Homo sapiens: one gene and its partners. The protein of the gene in region 1 purifies or fractionates together with the protein of each later gene. This does not show direct contact. Each region holds a gene or a part of one and is shown in the gene's direction. Other genes may lie near its edges.

What was found. The genes of interacting proteins can lie anywhere in the genome.
Region 2: the proteins of SYT12 (region 1) and ENTPD7 purify together in Homo sapiens (affinity purification with mass spectrometry; 2 studies listed by BioGRID and IntAct, with this or other methods). This does not show direct contact.
Region 3: the proteins of SYT12 (region 1) and LEMD3 purify together in Homo sapiens (affinity purification with mass spectrometry; 2 studies listed by BioGRID and IntAct, with this or other methods). This does not show direct contact.

What each region holds. Positions count from the first base shown.
Region 1 is NC_000011.10:67,046,247-67,051,816, forward strand, and holds the end of SYT12 (synaptotagmin-12), read left to right. Parts: intron 1-2,337; coding exon 2,338-2,511; 3' UTR 2,512-4,617; downstream 4,618-5,570. UniProt on the Homo sapiens protein: Synaptic vesicle phosphoprotein that enhances spontaneous neurotransmitter release but does not effect induced neurotransmitter release. Unlike other synaptotagmins, it does not bind Ca(2+) or phospholipids.
Region 2 is NC_000010.11:99,661,487-99,669,826, forward strand, and holds part of ENTPD7 (ectonucleoside triphosphate diphosphohydrolase 7), read left to right. Parts: coding exon 1-142; intron 143-8,340. UniProt on the Homo sapiens protein: Catalyzes the hydrolysis of nucleoside triphosphates and diphosphates in a calcium- or magnesium-dependent manner. Preferentially hydrolyzes nucleoside 5'-triphosphates, with substrate preference for UTP > GTP > CTP.
Region 3 is NC_000012.12:65,171,561-65,179,900, forward strand, and holds part of LEMD3 (inner nuclear membrane protein Man1), read left to right. Parts: intron 1-8,340.

The sequences.
Region 1 (5,570 bases):
ATCTCCCAAGCTCCATTTCAGGGTTCTGCTGAACTCCCCAGGTTCGCGTGGTCTTCAGAAGGTGACATGCTCCAGGGAGACCTCTCCCAGCAGGGACATCACAGACCACGGGTGGGGCTTGAAGATAGGGCTTGGGCCCTGCTTGCATGCCTCGGAGGATGGGGCTCGCACCACCTTCCCTCACTATCTCTAGCCCTCCTCGGCACTCCTGACAATGAGAAAGTCCTTTGTGCCTTGAGCCAAAACCTGCCTCCATAGCCCCAGGGCTGTACAGAACCCGCCTAATCTCCCCCAACCCGGGGACCCCGCCAGCATGTAAAGGCCCAGAATCTGCCTCACTCTGAGTGTTCCTAACCCGGGCACACCCCAGCATCTCTGGCCCATCCTGGGTATCGTAGCCTTCACCTGCCACCCTCGTGGAGCAGGCTGCCCATGTGTCCTCTGCCTCTCCCTGGGTGTCATAGTGCCACTTCTCCACAGCCTCTAAAAGCAAGAGACTTCTTGGGACCATGGGGGAAGTGGAGGAGGAGAGAGATCGGGCTGGGTTTGAGTTTCAGCTCCCGCTCTCATCTCAAGCAGTCTCTCCCGTCCTCGGTTGTGAGTGCAACGTGGTGATATTAGTAATAGCAACGCAACCTCTAGCATGTTCTGACTGTGCGCAGGTGCCGTTCTACACAGTTCACTCTTTTTGTTCCTGAAACAGCCCTATGAGATAGAAACCAATTTTTTTTTTTTTGAGACAGAGTCTCACTCTGTTGCCCAAGCTGGAGTGCAATGGTGTGAACTCAGCTCACTGCAACCTCCGCCTCCTGGGTTCAAATGATTCTTCTGCCTCAGCTTCCTGAGTAGCTGGGATTACAGGCACCTGCCACCACACCTGGCTAATTTTTGTATTTTTAGTAGAGATGGGGTTTCACCACGCTGGCCAGGCTGGTCTTAAACTCCCAACCTTAGGTGATCCACCCACTTCGGCCTTCCAAAGTGCTGGGATTACAGGTGTGAGCCACTGTGCCCACCCCCAATTTTTTTTTTTTTTTTTTGAGACAGAGTCTTGCTCTGTCACCCAGGCTGGAGTGCAGTGGAGTGATCTTGGTCACTGCAACCTCCACTTCCCAGGTTCAAGTGATTCTCCTGCCTCAGCCTCCCGAGTAGCTGGGATTACAGGCAAGCACCATCATGCCTGGCTAAGTTTTGTATTTTTGGTAGAGACAGGGTTTCACCATGTTGGCCAGGCTGGTCTCGAACTCCCAGCTTCAGGTGATCTGCCTGCCTCGGCCTCCCAAAGTGCTAGGATTACAGATGTGAGCCACCATGCCCAGCCAGAACAAATATTATCATCACCATTTCACAGATGGAGAAGCTGAGGTAGCAAGAGCCCAAGTCACTGCCCAAGGTCACACAGCAAGGAAGTGGAGGCCAGGCGTGGTGGCTCATGCCTGTAATCCCAGCACTTTGGGAGGCTGAGGTGGGAGGATCACCTGAGGTCAGGAGTTCAAGACCAGCCTGGCCAACATGATGAAACCCCCATCTCTTTTTTTTTTTTTTTTTTTTTTTTTTTTGAGACGGAGTCTCGCTCTTTCGCCCAGGCTGGACTGCAGTGGCGCTGTCTTGGCTCACTGCAAGCTCCGCCTCCCAGGTTCACGCCATTCTCCTGCCTCAGCCTCCCAAGTAGCTGGGACTACAGGTGCCCGCCACCAGGCCGGGCTAATTTTTTTTTTGTATTTTTAGTAGAGACGGGGTTTCACCATGTTAGCCAGGATGGTCTCGACCTCCTGACCTCATGATCCGCCCGCCTCGGCCTCCCAAAGTGCTGGGATTACAGGCGTGAGCCACCGTGCCCGGCCGAAACCCCCATCTCTACTAAAAATACAAAAATTAGCCGGGCATGGTGGCAGGAGCCTGTAATCCCAGCTACTTGGGAGGCTGAAGCAGGAGAATTGCTTGAACCTGGGAGGCGGAGGTTGCAGTGAGCTGAGATCATGCCCCTGTACTCCAGCCTGGGTAACAGAGTGAGACTGTCTCAAAAAAAAAAAAAAAAAGGATCAGGGGGAATTGGGGAGGCCAGCATTTGAAACCTGGCAGGCAGGTGCTGCCACTGTGGAGGGAGGCAGCAAGAGAAACCTGAGGGCCTAGGCAGGCCTAGTTCAAACTCTTGCCTGCCATTTATTTGCTGAGTGACCTGGGGCAAGTCTCCTCACCTCTTAGATCAGAGGTGAGGATTCAGGGAGCTGTGCCTGGCACCCCACTGGGGCCTGACATTTGTAACCTTGAACCCAGAGGCCAAGAAGTACCTCTGACTGCCCCTGGTCCTCAGCACCCATGTTGCCTCTTCCTCAGGACCTGTCTCTCCGCGTGACGGTGGCTGAGAGCAGCAGCGACGGCCGTGGGGACAACGTGGGCCATGTCATCATTGGGCCGTCAGCCAGTGGCATGGGAACCACACATTGGAACCAGATGTTGGCCACGCTGCGCAGGCCCGTGTCCATGTGGCACGCTGTCCGGCGAAACTAGCAACCAGGGCGGGCCAGTTGGGCAATGGAGCTGCTGGAGCCCGGTACCCACTCAGCTCTGTCTGATGCCCTCTCCATAGCCCAGCTGGAGCCGTGAACACTGGGGTCCCCTGGCAGAGTCCTCATGACCCATCCTGGTCTCTCTGTCCAGATTGCAGCAGAGGAGTGGGCGTGGCTCTGTGTCCAGGGCCCCAGGGTCTGCTCCTGCTGAGGACCAGCTGTGGCTGGGCCAGGACAGAGGACTCAACCCTGCTCCTCCCGGTAGGCCAGCTGCCGAGCTGGGCTATGTTCTGGAACCCAGTGAATCTTGGGGGCCAGGCACTGTGCTAGGCACCAGCAGGGGTAACACGAAGAAGACCCGGCCCTTAGGGCATCAGGAAGACTAGCTCCCCTGCCCCGGAGGATCTGCTCAGTGCTGATGGCAGCCCAGCTGTGTGGACTCAGGGGGCTCTGAGGGCTAGGGAAACAGGAAGGGCCTCTTTGACAAGGTAGGAGCTGTGCTTGGAGGGGCAGGAAAAGAACTGAGCATGTCGCAGGCAGCGGGCCCAGCCTGAGCAATGGCAGGATGTGAACTTCCCCATCGCAAATGCAGTTCTCAGCCCACTGCAGTGGATACAAGGAAGGGCCTTTCTCGGGGCCGGAGAAGAGACCAAGAGACCAGGCCCGGGCAGCAGCCTACCGGCCACGTGGAACACTGGCTCCGGAGTTATTCTCTGTCAAATCTACTCCCCGGACCTCAACCATGGCAAGAACCAGAGGTCCAAAGAGGCCCAGACCCAGGTCCTTGTGCTCAGTCCTGCGCAAACCAGGCCCAGACCCTGCAAGCATTTGTTGATGCCCTTGCAGGCCCACTGGGAGAAAGATGCCTCAGGCAGGTCTCAGCCTGGGGGTGGCAGGGGTGGGGCAGAGAGAATACTGACAGCAGAGGTCTTGGTGGGCTGCACGTGCCTGCGAAGATGTGGTGGACAAGGAGGCTCTCGGGCTGGGCCTTGGAGGGGTGGCAGCGGAAGGACAGCCCAGGTGGCTGAGGCCTGATGGGAAGCCGGGGAAGGCCAGGGTGGAAGGGCGGCTTGAGGGACGCCAGGAGAAGACTGAATGCCAGGCTAGGAAGGAGGCGGCTCTCGATCACGGGGTGGGTGCCCCCGACACCGGGTCTCCTAGCTTGAGTTCCCTAGAAGCGAAATCTGAGAGGGGGATTCTGGGGCAAGTAGTTTCTTGCGGGTGAGTGTTCTCAGAGAAACTTACCAGATCAAGAAAGGGAGCTCAGGCTGGATGGAGGAAGCCACGCAAGTGTGGCTTCAAGATCCATCGCCTTGGCCTGATCGCTGTGGGGGCAGGGGCCTGGAGTACGAGGGGCACCCTGGGGGCTCCCACCCAGAAGCAGAGGGGCTGGGCTGTTGCACCTCTACTGGCATCAGTCTTTGGTTACCCCCCAGCCCCAGTAGGAGGAGAGCAGGCAGAGCTTGTCATCCCCAGCCTGGTGTCCCGCAGTCCCAGGAAGCCGCTTCTTGCCTTCATGGCTGAGTGCTGGGAAGGGCTGAGCTCACCCAGGCCAGCAGGTGGGGTATCATCTGCTCGGTGGGGCCACCCACAGGTGACAGCATGGACCCTCAGGCTGGCTGCCCCTGTTCCTTGGTCCATAACTGGTGAGCTATGGAGACCCAGGCCAACAAATTATCCCCAGTGATATGGGGGGAGGAGGGGCTAGAACAAGGGCCCAGGGGACTGGAGGCAGGATGGTGGCTTTCCCTACCTGACACAGCCATGGCCCAGCCCCAAGGCCAGGCTGTCTACCCTATGGCCACAGCAGGAGGTCAGCCCAGGGCCAGGAGACACATGGCTGGACAAGGCTTTGCAGCCTGGGAGACCCCGACTTTCTCTAACCCAGTGGCTGTGCGGTGCAGGCCACTGACTCCCCCCCTGCCCTCTCCCCTCTCTCCCTCCCCCTAACTGCATGACATGTTAACTGTGTGCCCAGGACAGCCGTGGTGGGGACCGGGTATGCCAACTGGAATGATTCTAGAACCAAAATAAAGTTGGGGCAGGAAGAGGGGGCTTCCAGGGAGCCCTGCTCGGCCCTGAATCACCTTCGTCTCTTCTCTAGGAATCAGGGACTCAGGCCTCCTATGTGTTACTGTGCACCCTCCTTCCTGCTACAGAGTGCCCAGAGGGGAGTGAGGCCTCTCTCTGCTGGGGAGACCATCACAGGGACCAATGCATGCTGGGCATGGTGGCTCACACCTGTAATTTAAGCACTTTAGGAGGCTGAGGTGGGCAGATCACTTGAGGTCAGGAGTTCAAGACCAGCCTGGCCAACACGGCGAAACCGCATCTCTACTAAAAATACAAAAATTAGCCAGGTGTGGTGGCATGTGCCTGTAATCTCAGCTACTCGGGAGGCTGAGGCAGGAGAATCGCTTGAACCTGGGAGGCAGGGGCTCCAGTGAGCTGAAATCGCGCCACTGCACTCAAGCCTGGGCGACAGAGCAAGACTCAAAAAAAGGTCTCAAAAAAAAAAGGAAGGACCAATGCATCAGACTCCTTGGGAAGCTCAGAGGAGGGGCCACTGAGCCAGCTCTGGCAGGAGAGAGTAGGATGATGGGGAGTATCAAGGAAGGCTTCCTGGTGGTGACACCCAGCTGAGGCTTCAGGGCCAGAAGGAGGAGATCAGGTAGACACGGCAGGAGAAGCATTCCTAGCAGGGAACCCCATATACAAAAGGGCACAAGGGGGCGAAAACTTGGCCAGTGTATCCATTTGGCCAGAATAAAGTGGGGGATGGTGGAGGGAGTGAGCAGGGTGGGAAGAAGAGAGCCAAGGGGGAGTTCTGAAGGGTAGAAGGGCCTTCCACATTCAGCGAGTGCTGGTGTTCAGCCTGCAACACTTCAAAGTAAGTGCTGCTGCTATCCCCTTTTTTGCAGATGTGGAAAAGAGCTCAGAGAGGTTAGGTAACTAGCCCAAGGCCACACAGCCAGAAAGTCACAGAGCTGGGACTCAAGCTCGGCCTGTCTTTGCTACAGAGCCAGTGCTCTGGATCACTCAGCAACAACGCCCCCTTCC
Region 2 (8,340 bases), on another chromosome or scaffold:
CTGTGCCCACAGTGAGTCCATTTCTCCGTCAGCGGGTGGCATTCCTGGGACTCTTCTTCATATCCTGTCTCCTTTTACTTATGTTAATCATAGACTTTCGACATTGGAGTGCTTCATTACCACGAGATAGGCAATACGAAAGGTGAGTCAGCTTTAGATTTTGGCACTCAAGTCATAAATATTTTCATAAGCTGTTTAACACACTACTGACTTTGACCCTTTTGGGTGATACTGTACTTTTATTAGTAAAATTGCATGCCATTTATTACATAAAGAAGATTTTAAGCCCTATTTTGGCAATATGCAGTTTGGTACAGGAATACTGATACTGCATGAAAGGCATCTTTGTGTTTTCTTGTTTTGGTGGGCTGAAACTTATTGTGTGTATAAATGTTTAGGACTGTATTATACCTTTATGAATGGACCCCTTTATCATTATTAAATGATTTTCTTTATCCTTGATTATATACTTTGCTCTGAAATCTACTAGTCTGGTATTAATATAGCTACTCCAACTTTCTTTTGATTAACATTAGCATGACAGATATTTCTTCTATAGTTTTAGTTTTAGCCTATTGGTGTCTTTATATAAGTGGGCTTCTTGTAGTCAGTGTTTGGTTGGGTCTTGTTTTTTTATCCAATCTGACTATCTCTGCAGTTAATTGGGGTGTTCGGGCCATTTATATTTAATCTGATTATTTAGTATGTTTAGTTTTAATCTTGCTATGTGTTTTTCATTTGTCACATTTGTTCTTGTTCTTTTTCCTCTTTTTCCCTCTTCTTTTCAGTTGAGCACAGTTTTTATGTTTCCATTTTATCTCTCATGTTGGCTTATTAGATATAACTTCTTCTTTTTTTAGTGGTTACTTTAAAGTTTATAGTGTCATCTTTAATTATCACAATCTTCCTTCAAGTAATATTACTCCTCTTCACATCTAGAACAAGAACCTAACAACAGTATACTTTCATTCCTCCCTTCCCCTTGGTCTTTCTGCTACTGTCATGTATTTTATTTCTACATGTTATAAGCTCCACAATATATTGTTATTATTTTTGTGTTAGTCAATTGTCTTTTGAAGAGATTTTCAATATAAGAAAAAAAGGCTTATGTATTTAACCATATTGTTGCCTGAAAGGGTCATATAAGCAAAGTGACCCTTGAATGCTGAAGGGACGGAGAAACCAAAGGAGGAGGCAGGCAAATTGTTCGTTGGTATTCATTGATTTATTGAGGGAATTTGCAGACAGAAGCGTGGCCCTGGGTAGCTGCAAGACAGATAGATCTCCATACTGTTACTCCCCAGACCCAGGGCTTATATAGTACAGGGAGATGGTATATGCACCCTGTGCAAGACAATTAAAGACAGCCCTCCAGAACAGGTAAGAATGCTGCATGTGCCATATCCTGTCATTTGTGTGCCAACACCAAGGTTGACATGTTCTTACAGTAGTAAATAAAGCAGGAATCAAGAGGCATTTACGGGACTGAGGCTAGTCAGAAGTCAATGTGGCAGATTAACATCCAAGATGGAGTCACTTTTGTCTATATTTACCATTTCTGGTCTGCTTCATTCCTTTGTGTAGATCCATATTTCCATCTGGATCCATATTTCCATATTTGCTTTTACCTCAAGAACATTCTCTAGCATTTCTAGTAGAGCAAGTATGCGGTGATAAATTCTTTCAACTTTTATATGACTGAAAAAGTCCCTATTTTGCTTTCCTTTTGAAAGAAATGTTCATTGGGTATAGAACTCTAGGTTGATCATTTTTTTTCCTTTCATTACTTTAAAGATGATGCTTCACTGTCTTTTGGCTTGCATTCTTTCTGAGATGTCTGCTGTCCTTTTAATCTTTGTTCTCTCTGTATAGAATGTATCTTTTTCCTCTGAATACTTTTAGAATTTTCTGTTTATCACTGGTTTTAAGCAATTTGATTGTGATGTGCTTTGATGTTGTTTTCTACATGATTTTATTTGTTTTTTTTTTTTTTTGAGACTATCTCGCGCATCTCCCAGGTTGGAGTGCAATGGTGCAATCATAGCCCGCTGCAGCCTCAATCTCCTGGGCTCAAGCTATCTTCCTGCCTCAGCCTCCCGAGTAACTGGGACTACAGGCATATGCCATCATACCTGGCTAATTTTTTTGATTTTTAGTAGAAGTGAGGTCTCGCAGTGTTGCTCAAGCTGGTCTCAAACTGCTGAGCTCAACCTATCCTCCTGCCTCGGCCTCCCAAAGTGCTGGGATTACTGGCATGGGTCACCGTGCCCTGCTTACCTGATTCTTGTGCTTGTGATTTGTTGATTCTTGGATCTATGGATTTGTAGTTTTAATCAAATTTGGAAACATTTTGTCCATTACTTCTTCAGATTTTTGTTGTTGTTGTTCTCCCCTGCTTTTCCTCTGGGGACTCCAGTAACATGTATATTGAACTATGTGATGTTTTCCCACAGCTCACTGATGTTCATTTTTTTTCCAGTCTTTTTTCTCTCTGTGTTTCATTCGTATATTTTTTTGCTGCTTTCAAATTTGTTAGTATTTTTTTCTGTAGTGTTTAATCTACTGTTCTATCCAGTGAAAGTTTGACATCTTTTTTCACAGATAGTACATCTGAATTATTTTATATACTTTTAGCTATACCAGTTGCACAGAAGGTCTATATTTCTTTATAGCAGTGATTCATTTTGCTATTTTTTTGAGATTAGTTTTTGATGAAGCTACAAAATTAAATAATGGCATGTTATGTTCATTATCTTCAACATGATTTTCTTATTAAAAAATTTTTTTCTTTAGAGACAGAGTCTCACTCTGTCACCCAGGCTGGAGTACAGTGGTGCGATCATAGCTCACTATAACCTTCAATTCCTGGGTTCAAGCAATCCTCCTGCCTTGGCATCTCAAAATGCTGGGATTACAGATGTGAGCCACTGTGCCTGGCCTCATTTTTAAAATATTTACATTTTCTTTTTTTTTTTTTTTTTGAGACAGAGTCTTGCTCTGTTGCCCAGGCTGGAGTGCAGTGGCGCTGTCTCAGCTCACTGCATCCTCTGCCTCCCGGGTTCAAGTGATTCTCCTGCCTCAGCCTCCTGAGTAGCTGGGACTGCAGGCACATGCCACCATGCCTGGCTAATTTTTTGTATTTTTAATAGAGATGGGGTTTCACTGTGTTAGCCAGGATGGTCTCGATCTCCTGACCTTGTGGTCTACCCACGTTGGCCTCCCAAAGTGCTGGAATTACAGGCGTGAGCCACCATGCCTGGCCTAAATTTTCTTTTTATTGCTTCTCAGATATGTATTAGTTAAGAGGCTTTGGGCTGCAAATAACAGCCCACATTGACTTAAACAATAAGAATGCTCACATACCTGGAAGTCCAGGGGTAGAAGGACTACAAGTTCAACACTGGCTGACAGGATGAGAGGCTCTGTCTCTCCTGTCTGTTGTCCACAGTGTCAGTTTACTTAATGGTTGAAAAACAGCAGACTGCCGGGCATGGTGGCTCACGCCTGTAATCTCAGCACTTTGGGAGGCGGAGGCAGGTGGATTGCACGAGCTCAAGAGTTCGAGACCAACCTGTGCAACATGGTGAAACTCTGTCTCTACAAAAAAATATAAAAATTAGCCAGGCATGGTAGCATGCACCTGTAGTCCTTGCTTCCCAGGAGGCTGAAGTGGGAGGATCACTGGAGCCTGGGGAGGTAGAGAATGCAGTGAGCTGGGATCACGCCATTGTACTCCAGCCTGGGGGACAGAGTGAGACCCTGTCTCAAAGAAAAAAAAAAAAAGAGAAGAAAAACAGCAGACAGTAGCAACCAGGGCAGCATATATATTCACTTATGTCCCGTAGGAGACAGAAAGGCTTTCCATGACTCTCTTCTAAGAATGGAGAAGAGCCTTGCCAGAAACCTCTAACAACCATTTCCTGGAATCTTTTTTGGTCAGAATTGGGACACATGCCTACCCTCCTTTTTATTTCTGGATTCTGTCCCCAGATTTTCTCATTTCCCATTCACTTTGGTCATTCATTCATTCATTCATCATTCATTCATTCATTCAACAAAAATTTGAGCAGCCACTATGTGCAGACGATAATAGGCATCAGACACCAGATACAGAGACTTTGGTACATTTTCTCAAGAAGCTTATGTTTTCAGCCTTGCCTTCTTCTAGCAGCCCAATTCATTTGTATTTTTGGCTTGCTTTTCTTTTTTTTTTTTCTTTTTAAACGTTACTGAAATAGAGATGGAGGTCTCACTATGTTGCCCAGGCTGGTCTTGAACACCTGGGCTCAAGCGATCCTCCTGCTTTGGCCTCCCAGAGTGTTGGGATTGCAGGCATGAGTACCATGCCAGCCTCGACTTTCTTTTCCTTTCCAGAAGAGGAAACACTGTTTGGATGATTATAGTAATCAACAACTGCCCTTAAGAAATGTACTAAATTTGGAGACCTAAATCCATAATTTGAGTTTGTTTAATGCTTATGGAATTTTCTTGACAGACCTGCGCATAGTTTCTCACTTGAAGACGACATGGTCTAATTATGGACTTCCATGTAGGTTAGTTAATATGGCTAAAGACAATTAGGGAGTGAATGGTGAGCTGTATGGCTGGAGAGCTAGATCAAGCTGAGTCTGTTAAGCTATTTTAGAGGGTTTAGGCATTACCCTCAGGGCAGAAGGAAGGCTTTGAAAGGTTTTGAAGAGTGAAAAGGTTGGAACTGCTTTTTAATTTTTTTTTTTTTTGAAACAGAGTCTCACTCTGTCACCCAGGCCGGAGTGCAGTGGCGCTATCTCGGCTCACTACAACCTCCGCCTCCCAGGTTCAAGCAATTCTCCTGCCTCAGCCTCCCAAGTAGCTGGGATTACAGGCATGTGGCACCATGCCCAGCTAGTTTTTGTATTTTTTAGTAGAGACGGGGTTTCACCATGTTGGCCAGGCTGGTCTCGAATCCCTGGCCTCAAGTAGTCCACCTGCCTCGGCCTCTCAAAGTGCTGGGGTTACAGGCATGAGCCATCGTGCCCAGCCAGAACTGCTTCTTAAAGAAAGCTCACTTTGGTGGGATTGTGGAAAAAGAATTGGAGAGGAATGAAAAAGAAAGCAGGAAGAGTAATTGAACTAGAGATGCTCCTTGACTTATGATGGGTTATGTAAATTGAAATATCATAAGTTGAAAATGCATTTAATACACCTAACCTAACAAATGTCATAGCTTAGCCTAGCCTACTTTAAAGGTGCTCAGAACATTTACATTAGCCTACTGTTGTGCAAAACCACCTAACAGAAGGCATATTTTATAATAAAGTATTGAATATCTCATGTAATTTATTGAATACTGTACTGAAAGTGAAAAACAGAATGGTTGTGTGGATACTCACGGTATACTTTCTACTGAATGTGCATCACTTTTGCACCATCATAAAGCTGAAAAATCATAAGTTGTACCATTGTAAGTCAATGACTGTACCTCAATAGAGAGATGGTTGTGGTTGCAAGAGGATGGAGAGAGGTAAAAGCATTTAAATGTATGTGGGTGGCAGAGTGATCTGATAATTCTTGTCTATCACTGTATCCCAAGTGGTCAGAGCCAATAAATACTTGGTAGGTTGAATTAATTGAAACAAGTTAGCAATAGAGCTGAGGAACACATAGACTGTGCCACTGTGGCGACCTCACCAAAGTCCTAACACCCTGGAATGCTGTGGCTCAGAGCTCATTGTTACTTAATGAAAGGTTCTGTATATATTGCCACAAATGACCATTTATCATTAAACTTCACTCAGGGCAGCCTCCATGAGTCATTTAAGAGGCAAACATTTATTGAGGGTTTGCTGTGTCGATGACTCTATGATAGCACTGGAGTACAAAGATGACTAAACATAGCCCCTGAACTCAAGGAGTTCGTAATCTAGTTAGAGAGGCAGGCATAAAGGAAAAATTATTTCCCAGTGAGATAATAGTTTAGGTACGGTTGTATAGAATCAGGAGTGAAGAATCAGGAACTATGTACAAGGTTAAGAATTAGGAACAAAGCTAAGAATCAGAAATTAAACAGAAGAAGTTCTTGAGCAACCAAATTTGATATCACTAAGTTCATGTGCTAAAAGCACCTGTACTTTACTGATAAGATAGGCTCTCACATAAAGCCTGTTAGCTTTTATTTTACACACTGTTCTCATTTGCATGGTTCTCACTTGTCTCAGAACACAGTAGATAACAGCAAATTGGAATGGTGGGTGGGGTGTGTTGTTAGATGTGGGCACATTATGACAATAATCAGTTATATCTGGCATCTTGACAGTGAAGCAGGAGAGAGGAAATTTAATAAAGATAGACTCAATAACTCAAAATTTCTACAGACAGTTTCTATAGTGGTAAACAGTTCTACATATGTTGTTAAAACTGTTTTATTACATAGTCTAAAAATTTATGTTAATGAAATGATAATCTTTTTTTTTTTTTTTTTTTTTTTGAGACAGAGTCTCACTCTGTTGCCCAGGCTGGAGTGCAGTGGCATGATCTCAGCTCACTTCAACCTCCACCTCCCAGGTTCAAGCGATTCTCATGCCTTAGCCTCCCGAGTAGCTGGGATTACAGGTGCGCACCACCATGCCCGGCTAATTTTTGTATTTTTAGTAGAGACAGGGTTTCACCATGTTTGCCAAGCTGGTCTCAAACTCCTGGCCTCATGTGATCCACCCACCTCAGCCTCTCAAAGTGCTGGGATTACAGGCGTGAGCCACCATGCCTGGCCATTAATGATAATTTTAAATCAGAGGTTTTCAACCTTTGTGTATCTAAATCACTTGGGGACCTTTAGAAAAATGCAAATAATTGGGACTCTTCTCAAGGTGAATCTAATATACCACCTGGGTTGAGAAAAACTGCTTTAAGATTTGGTTACATTTACTTAAGGAGGTATTGTGAGGTAAGGGAAAGAATGTTAATATTAGAGTTAATCAGCCCATCATTTGCTAGTTGGGTAATCTTGGGCAGGTTTCTTAATATCCTGGAATTTCATATTCTTTATATATAAAGTGAGAATAAAAATAGCTGTCTTTTAGTCTTGTCATTTGCATAAGAAGAGTAGAGCATCTAGGAATGTCAGGTGCATTGATTGACTAATCAAATGTCAATCTATTATTTGAAATAATCTTGATTTTTCTGTTTTCCAATTCTCTTCTCTGCCTGAAAATATACACTGAAGATAATGGGCGTTATAATCTCTATTTAAAATTTTGATGAAATGATTAAGCAAGTAACTAGGAATTGGTAGAAACACTTGCTACCTTAATTTAACAGCTTAAAAAAGTTTTAACACAAGCGCCTGTAGTTGTGATTTTTTTATATTATATTCATATATAGACATATTTTTTCTACTTAAATTGTTCCTAATTCACACAGTGAAATTATATCCGTACTTTGTGGTGTCCCTCAGAAAGTGTGCTGTCTTCCAGGAACCCACTTACACGTGTCTTCATGGGAGCAAGTTTGCAAACCTTTGATCAGGAAAATGTGCCTAGAGGAACACTACATGCATTCTTTATTTTATTTTATATATCTTTTTTTTTTTTTTTTGTAGAGACAGTGTCTCCCTATGTTGCCAAGCGTAGTCATGAACTCCTAGGCTCAAGCAATCCACCTGCCTTGGCCTCGCAAAGTGCTGGGATTACAGATGTGAGCCACTGTCCTAGGCCCATTCATTGTTTTATGGTCTTGACAAATAAGGCATTGCTTTAATTAGAAATGATAGTCTCTCTTGCACATTGCATCTTTGTATTTTAATATATATGAAAGCAGTTAATGTTTAAAATATTTTAATTACTTTTGCATTGAAAACAGATATTTCAATGTGAACTTTTTATAGGCATTGGTGGAATTTAACATATCACTTTTCAGGGGATATTAACCAGGACTTTAGAAGCCTGTCAGGGGGTTTTCTCTCAGTAGTTCCAGAACTAAAGACTTACATTTTTTTTCTTTATTGTGAACATGTATCCATATTGCTTCTGGAAAGAGAGAGTAGGAAGTTTGCATCAAAACTAGAATTTATTTGATACAAAAAAAGTAAATTTAGAGAGATGGGGTGTCAGTAAGGATAGAATCCAAAACTGTGTTTTTTTTAATACACTTTTTTTAGAGCCATTTTAGTTTTACAGCTCATTTGAGCTGAAGGTGCAGAGATTTACCACATATCCCCTGACCCTACACATGCACAGCAGAGCTGTTTTTGAGAATAATACTTGTGTTAGATGTGTGGTTTTTTTTTTTTTTTTTTTTTTTTTTTGAGACAGAGTCTTGCTCTGTCGTCCAGGCTGGAGTGCAGTGGTGCGATCTCGGCTCACT
Region 3 (8,340 bases), on another chromosome or scaffold:
ATATTAACTGTATGCATAAATTCGGATTAAATATTTTGTGGTATTAACTGTATGTATAATTTCTTTATAGTGAATGAATATAAAAAAGCAGCAAGGCACACCTCTTAATTTATTTCCCAGCCCAAAGCACTTTCCCTATCATCTGTACAAAAAGTAGTGGTAGGGCAGTGCAGGAGCTTGCAGTCAGATTTCCTTGGATTGGTTTCCAGGTCCTACTATTTACTTGCTAAATGACTGTAGGCAGGTGTGTTCATTGTCATAATCAAAGTATCTCTGCCCTTAAACACAAAAAGAAGATGAATACAGACCATTTTGTGTTCTCTGAAGGAAATAAAGATGAGTAATTGGCGTACACAACTTTATTTTTTTTCCTTTTTTAAAAAAATTTACCAGACTACACTGACGTAGGTGTACACTACTTTAGATTGAACGGAGGAGGTACTATTTGAGGTGAGACCTGAAGCAGAAGGAGACAGCCTTGTGGAGAAACAGTAGACCATTCTGAGCAGAGATTAAGGCCTTGAGTTGAGCAAGAGCCTTCTTGTAGGTTAGAGTGGTTAAGCACCTTGAGCAAAGGGGAGAGAGTCAGAGTTAAAGCTTCTGAACTTTCCTAATCTATAAGATGAGGCCTCTATTGACTAGAATGTTTGTGAAGATTAAAAGAGAAAGTAAATTAGGACAAAATGGACTTCTGAATACATAATTTCTCAGTGTTAGGTCCCTCTCTGCATTCTCCCTGAAGGCTTCCTACTCTTTTCACCCAAGATGAATTCACTGTATTTTTATTTGTATTTATAAAATTGGCTTATTAGTTTTATTTCAAAATAGAGTGAAAGATGCAGTTAGCCAACTCAGATAAAGAGTAGGAGTCAAAATAATGTAAGCTTAGATTTAGATATAGCCAATTCCGAGACAGTCAAATAATAGATTTTTACTCTGTTGCTTAATTACAGGGGTTGAAACAAGAATGAAATTCAGCTCTCACTTTAGTTTATTCCCTGGGAGCATGAGTGTATTGTGTCCTGCCCCAAATATTTGGGAGAAAAAAAATAAGGGCACACTAGAAGTTAAACAAGTAAAAGTTCACATAAATTAAATGACATTACCTATCAGCAGTAGCTATCTGCATCTGTGTCTCTAACAACTATAAGATCTGGCCTTTTTCTTTTCTTTTTTTTTTTTTTTAGACAGAGTCTAGCTCTGTCGCTAGGCTGGAGTGCAGTGGCACAATCTCTGGTCACTGCAACCTCCGCCTCCTGGGTTCAAGTGATTCTCCTGCCTCAGCCTCCCAAGTAGCTGGGACTACATGCGCGTGCCGCCACACCTGGCTAAATTTTTTTTGTATTTTTAGTAGAGACAGGGTTTCACCATGTTAGCAGATCTGGCCATTTTCTAAGAGCTAATTGCTTTACACCTATTGTACCATCTAATCTTCCCAGCAACTCACAGAAGCAGGTGGTGGTATCCTCATTTTTGGATGAGGATGATACTAAGTTAAGAAATGCACTGAGTGTTGAACAGTTAGTAGTAGGGCTAAGATTTGGTTTCAGATTTTATTTCCAACTAGAAAGACCATTTTAACACTGTTTTGGTTATTGTTTGTAGAGAGCTTTCTAAATAAGTGGGTACCTTTATTATGATTAAGAAAGTAATTGACTATTTGGTAGGATTTCATACAGAATTATTGATAAGCACAATTCTCAGTTAAGGTGACTTTCACATCTTTCTCATCAGTGTTAAGATGAATGACTAATGTGGTGTACTAAAAGTTCAGGTAGAATAGGATAGGAATGCTAGGATTTTGGTACTCTTCACCTTCACTGATAAGGAAGGAAGGAAATTATATTTACATTTTAGTAAATGGTAAATGTGAAGTAATCTGGGCGTTGGAAAGAACAATGGCTAAGAAGTAGAGGATCTAGGTTCTAGGACTTGTCTGAATGACTGTGGTCAAGCTCCTTAATCTCTGAGCCTCATTTTTATATACTAAATGGAAGTAATAATATCTGCTGTCTCTGGGTTTGTTTGTGAGGGTCAGGTGAGACAGTGTGTTAAACATAAGGTGGTATTATTCAGAAATTTGGACAAAATTTGTTGTATTCCTGGTAAACTACAGTATATCTAGAGAGATAAATAGTTAAGACATTTCTATAAATGACATAGTATAGTGCATTTCTTAACCTAACATTTGATTTTTATCCCATTAAATATACATTATAGAAATTAATACAGAAATTTGAATCAAAGTATAATGAATCCTTAAATGTATGATACACTTGATGTATTGTATGTCTACCCTGTGGAAAGAAGTGCCTGCTAACTTCAGTTAGTCTGCACACCTAACAGTGTTAGGGTATCAAGAGTGAATAATATTTTCACTCCATATATATATACACACACATACATACACGTATTCCATATCCTTTGTTATATTATGATGCTTTAACTGTAGAGTTCATTGGTCAAATAGTATGCTTAGGGAAATACGTTTACTTTGAGTAATAGTTTTCACCAGAAGATTGTAGGTTATATGTGAGAGTAACTTTTAGGAGGCTTTTATTATTTAAATTACATATAACATATAGTAGATTAGTCTTTTAAATTGTTCTTAATCATATAGTCTTTGAAACTTTTTCATCAATGCCCTATTTTTTTATTAATTAAATTGCTATAAGTCTCTTCTTCCTCATCTATAAAACTAGGGGGTTGGATTAGATGATCCCTAAGCTCTTTCCAGCTCCAAGATTTAAGATTTTAACTTTGAACTGCCATACCAAAACAACTCAAGGATCAACCTGCAATCAGAGTAGTCGCTTGTTCCACAGGTGATTAGATCATTATAGCCCACCAAACGAAAATAGAGAAGCAGAATAGATTGACTGTCCTAGGCTCGTATGATCATTATTAATTTTTTTTTCAATTACAAAAGACATGACTTCTGCAGAAAGTTTGAATAGAGATGAAGGAAACAGTGAATGGTTATTGTATGCCTCTCTTCCTAGCCTCATGCTGCCCCCATATAAATAAGTTCAAGTATTAGATCCTTTCTGACCTTTCTTAGTATTTTTCATGTAAATACATCTCTGTGTGTGTGTGTGTATGTGTGTGTGTACAGATTTTCATTCAACAGCAGAGTGTCTACTATGTGCCCGGTATTATTTTAAGCAGCAGGGATATGTGGTGAACAATATGTTGCATATGTGGAAGATGAAATCTCTGTTACAGAGCTTACATTTCTAGGAGGGGAATGGACAAGTAAATAAGAATTTCACATAATGGTAGTTGCTAACACAAGGTATTGCTGGTAACTTTTGGGGGCTGAGGTGAAGAGATATGCAATATTACATAAAGGTAGGCAGACCTCTCTGAGGAAGGATGTTTGAACTGAGATATGAATGACTTGAGGGAACTAGCCTTTGATCAGGAGAAGAGCATTCTGGCAGAAGTATCAGCAAGTGCAGAATTCCTGAGGCAAAAACAGGCTTGTGTGTTGAAGGACCAAAAAGAATGGCCAGTGTTGCTGGGACATAATGAATGAAGGGGAAAATGGCATACCATGAAGTTAAAGGTAGGTATGGGCCAGATCATAAAGACCTAAACGCCTTGAGGGCCGTTGAAAGGAGTCAGAATTTTAAGTGATATTATAGCATACATATTCTGCAACTTGTTTTTTGTATCATGGGTAACTTTTCCATATACTAATTTTAAGTACAGAGGTATAATTTTAAAATCTCATTTTCCACTAGTCCCTTTCTCATCCTATAAAAATACTAAAATCTCTACCATTCTAAAAATGTTGCTCTTCTGTGCTCTTTTCTTCTCTAGTTGTTACTCTTCTCAAACTTTCTGCCTCTATTTTCTTCCCTGCCATTCACTCAACCCTGTCTAGTTTAGCTTTCTTTACCAGCCATTCCTCTGCTACCTCTCTTCTTCAAGTCACCAGTTACTCAATTTTCAAATCCTCATCTCTTTGGTACATTTAGTGCATTGACAACTCCCTTCTTCATGAAACTTTCTCCTTTCTAAGCTTCTGTATCACTACTCTCTCCTAGTTTTCATACTTCTGTCTGCCTGTTTTAAATATTGGTGGTCTCCACAACTTGATCTTTGGCTGTCTCCTTTTGCACACATTTCTCTAGGAAGTTTCATTCACTCTCCTTGTCATTATCTTCCAGTTTTGTATTTTTACCTTGGATTTCTCCTGAGATCTAGGTATACCTATTTGTTTACTAGACATCTTTTGGGTATACTAGAAGTATGTACCAATACCATCTGACATTTTCTTTATATTTACCTTGTTTTTGCTCCTCCTCCCTGTTTAGTTAATGGTGCTTCCATCCACCCAGACAGAGCTCAAGAGAGAAACCTTGGATTTACCTAGATTCTTTCCTTTCCCTCACCTTCCTACAAACCCCCAACCTAATTGGATACCAAGTCCTGTAGTTCTGTTTCCTCTATATCTTTTGAATCAATCTTTTTCTGTCCCTCGCCACTGTTCTAGGTTAGTCTCTTGCCTGAACTCTTTCAGTAACCTAAAATGGTGTCCCTGCTTCTAGGCTGTAGCTCTTCCAGTCCATTTGTCAGTACAGAGCAGCGTTTCTAAAGCACAAATGTGATCATTCCCTCTTGCTTAAAATTACACAATGGCTTTCTCTTAGTTATTGGCCAAAATCTAAACTCGTTGGCTAAACTGTTCATGATCTGACTATGCTTGCCCTTTCTACCAGTCTCCCTTATCACACTTACTTTCTAGAAAACTGAACTGTTTGCTGTTTTCTGAGTAAGTCATGAAATTTGTGCTTTTCTACCTTTGCACAGGTTATCCCCTTTTTTGGGAATGTTTCTTTATTTTGTAACTGTGATTCATTCTTAAACATGTCATCTCCAGATATCTCTGACTCTCCATCTTTTTACCCTAGAGTTTGGCCCATCATTTTGTGCTCAAATAAGACATTAATTGCATCCTTCATAGTATTTAGGACAAAGTATTATATTTGTGTGTCCACCATGCCAAATAGATGACAGCTCCTTTCTTTAGAGTAATATTTCTATAGGAGTAGAATACAGTGTTAAAGAGTACAAACTTTTTACTCAGTTCTGATTTTGGCTCTACTTTTTAAAGTAGACTATACTAGAGATATAATTGCCTCATACTAAAAATGAGATTGATAATACTATCTGAGGATGACTTGTATTAAGTGAGATAATGCATCTAAACTAGTGTTGTCTGGCACATGGAAATCTCTTAGTAGATGGAAGTCACATTAGTATCTTCAGCACAGATTCATTATTCAGCAAATATCTGTTGAATAAATGATCACATATCAGGTACTCAGGATATATGCACTGTTAACTGGTAGTATCTAACTCGGTAATTGGTTATCTACTTAGTATCTGGTAAGGATATATAAAAGAAATCTTATTTCTGTAGAAGCCTCCACACCACTAATAACAGTAATAGGAAATGGCTAAGAAACATACAGGATATTATGTGGTTACACACTTTTATAAAAGGGGAGAATTCACTGTAAATTCTCAAATGATCAGTCTTACATGATCAAAAGTTCTAAATTCAACATTTGGATTTTATTCTGTAGGTTGAGTAATGGCAATTCATGGAGGTTATAAAGCAGAGGACAAGCATGATCGAATTGGTCCTTTAAGAAGGATAAACAGGTGATGGTTTAGACAGTGATAGGGTTGGAGGGAAGGAGTAGGGTGATGACACCTGAAGGAGGTGGATAAGTGGGAATGGAGTTGGGCCTATGAATGAAATTCATTTGAAGAAAGACATATGGTTTTGAGTATAGAGAATAAGAGACAGATAGGAGTCAAAGATTATTCTGGCCATGAGCCTGGATGACTGAGAGAATGATAATATCATTGGAGGAATTAGAGATGTGGAAGAGGGATCTTGTTTGGGGAAAAGTGGTCTAGGGAAAATGAGTTTACTTGGGGCTTATTATTTGAGTTGTTCAAGTGAAAAATTCTTGTAGGCTCTTGTAGATACAGAATTGGAGTAAAGATGAGAGACTGGTGCTGAATGTGAGTACTAGTACTGTTTACTAAGGGAATACTTTTAAATGTTTGTTTTTTTAATGTGTTGTTGTTTTCTTTAAAATCAAGACCAGTTGTTACAAAGAAGTAACATGTTTTAATGTCATTGTCGTTTAAAAAATATTTTTACTTCTTAAAGTAGACTAGCCAAAAGGTCCCGAACTTGGTATCTAAAATGAATATGGGGAATAAGGATTTTGAAAAATAGCTGTTGCTCTCATTCTTTTTTTTTTTTTTTCAATATGAGACAGGGTCTTGCTGTGTCACCCAGGTTGGATTGCAGTGGTGTGATCATGGCTTACTGCAGCCTCAACCTCCCAGGACTCAAGCAATCCTCACAGCTCAGCCTCCTGAGTAGCTGGGACTATAGATCTGCATCACCACATCTGGCAAATTTTTTGTATTTTTTGTTGAGACAGGATCTCACTTTGTTGTCCAGGCTGGTCTTGAACTCCTGGGCTCAAGCGATCCTGTCACCTTCGCCTCCCAAAGTGCTGAGATTACAGGTGTCAGCCATAGCAGCCGGCCTATTCTCTCATTCTTGAAGAATGAAAGCTCCATGTTATGTTTGAAGTTTTACGAGTTGACTGCTTTGTAAGAAAAAAAAAAAAATCCTAGATCTATGAGAATATTCCCGTGAATGCCAGGGATTTGCATATACCAGTTTGATGATTTCAGAAATTAAAGTCTACTCTATGAAAATGTTTTTCATTTGAAAATTTTCCCTAGAATGATTTAAATTAAAAATAATGAGGAAAAACTTGTGAATCTCTACAGATATATCCACGGAGACTAGTTTGAGGATACACTGGCATAGCTATCAGAGAACCTGGGCTTCAATATTGGCCCTTCCACTTACTAGCTTTTTTTCACTAAGGCAAGTTGCTTAGCCATTGTAAACCTCAATATCCTCATATGAAAAATAGGTTAAATGAGAATGAAGTAATGTGTGTAAAGTAAAACTCATACATGGCACATAGTAATAATAATAACTAACCCTTACGTAGCATTAACTGTGTTCCAGGCACTGAGCTAAACAATTATTATTTAATCCTTATGAGGTAGGTACTTATCCCATTTTATAAGTAAATGGAGACACTGAGAAGTAACTCGCCCAGGGTCATGTAGCTAGTAAGTGAAGCGGCAGTATTTGAACTCAGACAGTGGCTCTTAACTGTTCTTCTAGATTGCCTTTTAATATGTATAAATAAGGACTTGATATATGTTCTCTACTATTATTGTCTTTATTTTCAGAAAACTGTGACAAGTATAGATTCATAAAATCCTAGAAGTGGCAGGAATAATCTATGAAACCTAACAACTTTAGGAAAAGTTGTATTCATTCAACAATTATGAATCACATGGAACTATTTATCCTTAAGGTTTTAGATTAATTAAGGGGGAGGGGGCATCTGCTATGAAGCAAACTATAATATATAATACATAGAACAATAATACAATATTAAAACTATTTCTAATTTTTAAAATATTTGCAGTCTCAAAACTGGTAGGGAAAGTGATCTTTTGATTTGTATTACCAATTACAACTTGTTCTTTCTGTTGTTCATTTTTAGGATATAAAGAACTTTTCATACATTTGATCTCCCTTTTTTGCTCCTTTTGAATAAACTTCATATTTTCCCTTTATACTCATATATGTTTTAATGGAAATGATGCATTTGATAATTTCAGGGACACTAAAATAATCATGAAAAATTATTTTCATGATTCCTAAGAGTTGGGAAGTTCTTAAAGCTTGCTTCTCCTTGCTCATTGATTATTCAATATTAACTTTCCCTATCTGAAAAATATGTTATATAAATGGAAATTTATAGCCTCAGTGCAAAGATAATTATATAGTTTGTAAGTTGTTTAAAAGAGAAGGACACCTTAAACTGTTGGAACTCTCCAAAATGTATTTGTTAATAAATAAGTACTACTAACTTGTTTGTGAAAATTTTATTACTAATGATATAATCTAAATTCGAATGAAGATATATTCTAGGGGTGGGGAGAATATCAGGAAAAATAGCTAATGCATGCTGGGCTTAATACCTAGGTGATGGGTTGATAGGTGCAGCAAACTGCCATGGCACGCGTTTACCTATGTAACAAACCTGCACATCCTGCACATGTATCCCAGAACTTAAAATAACATTTTAAAAAAGATGTATTTTAATCTTGTATTGATTATACATTAAAAATTGCTGCCATTTAATATGGGAACATAGCTTAATACTAATTGTGGAAATTGTTATAACAGTTATTTGCTTATAACTTTGG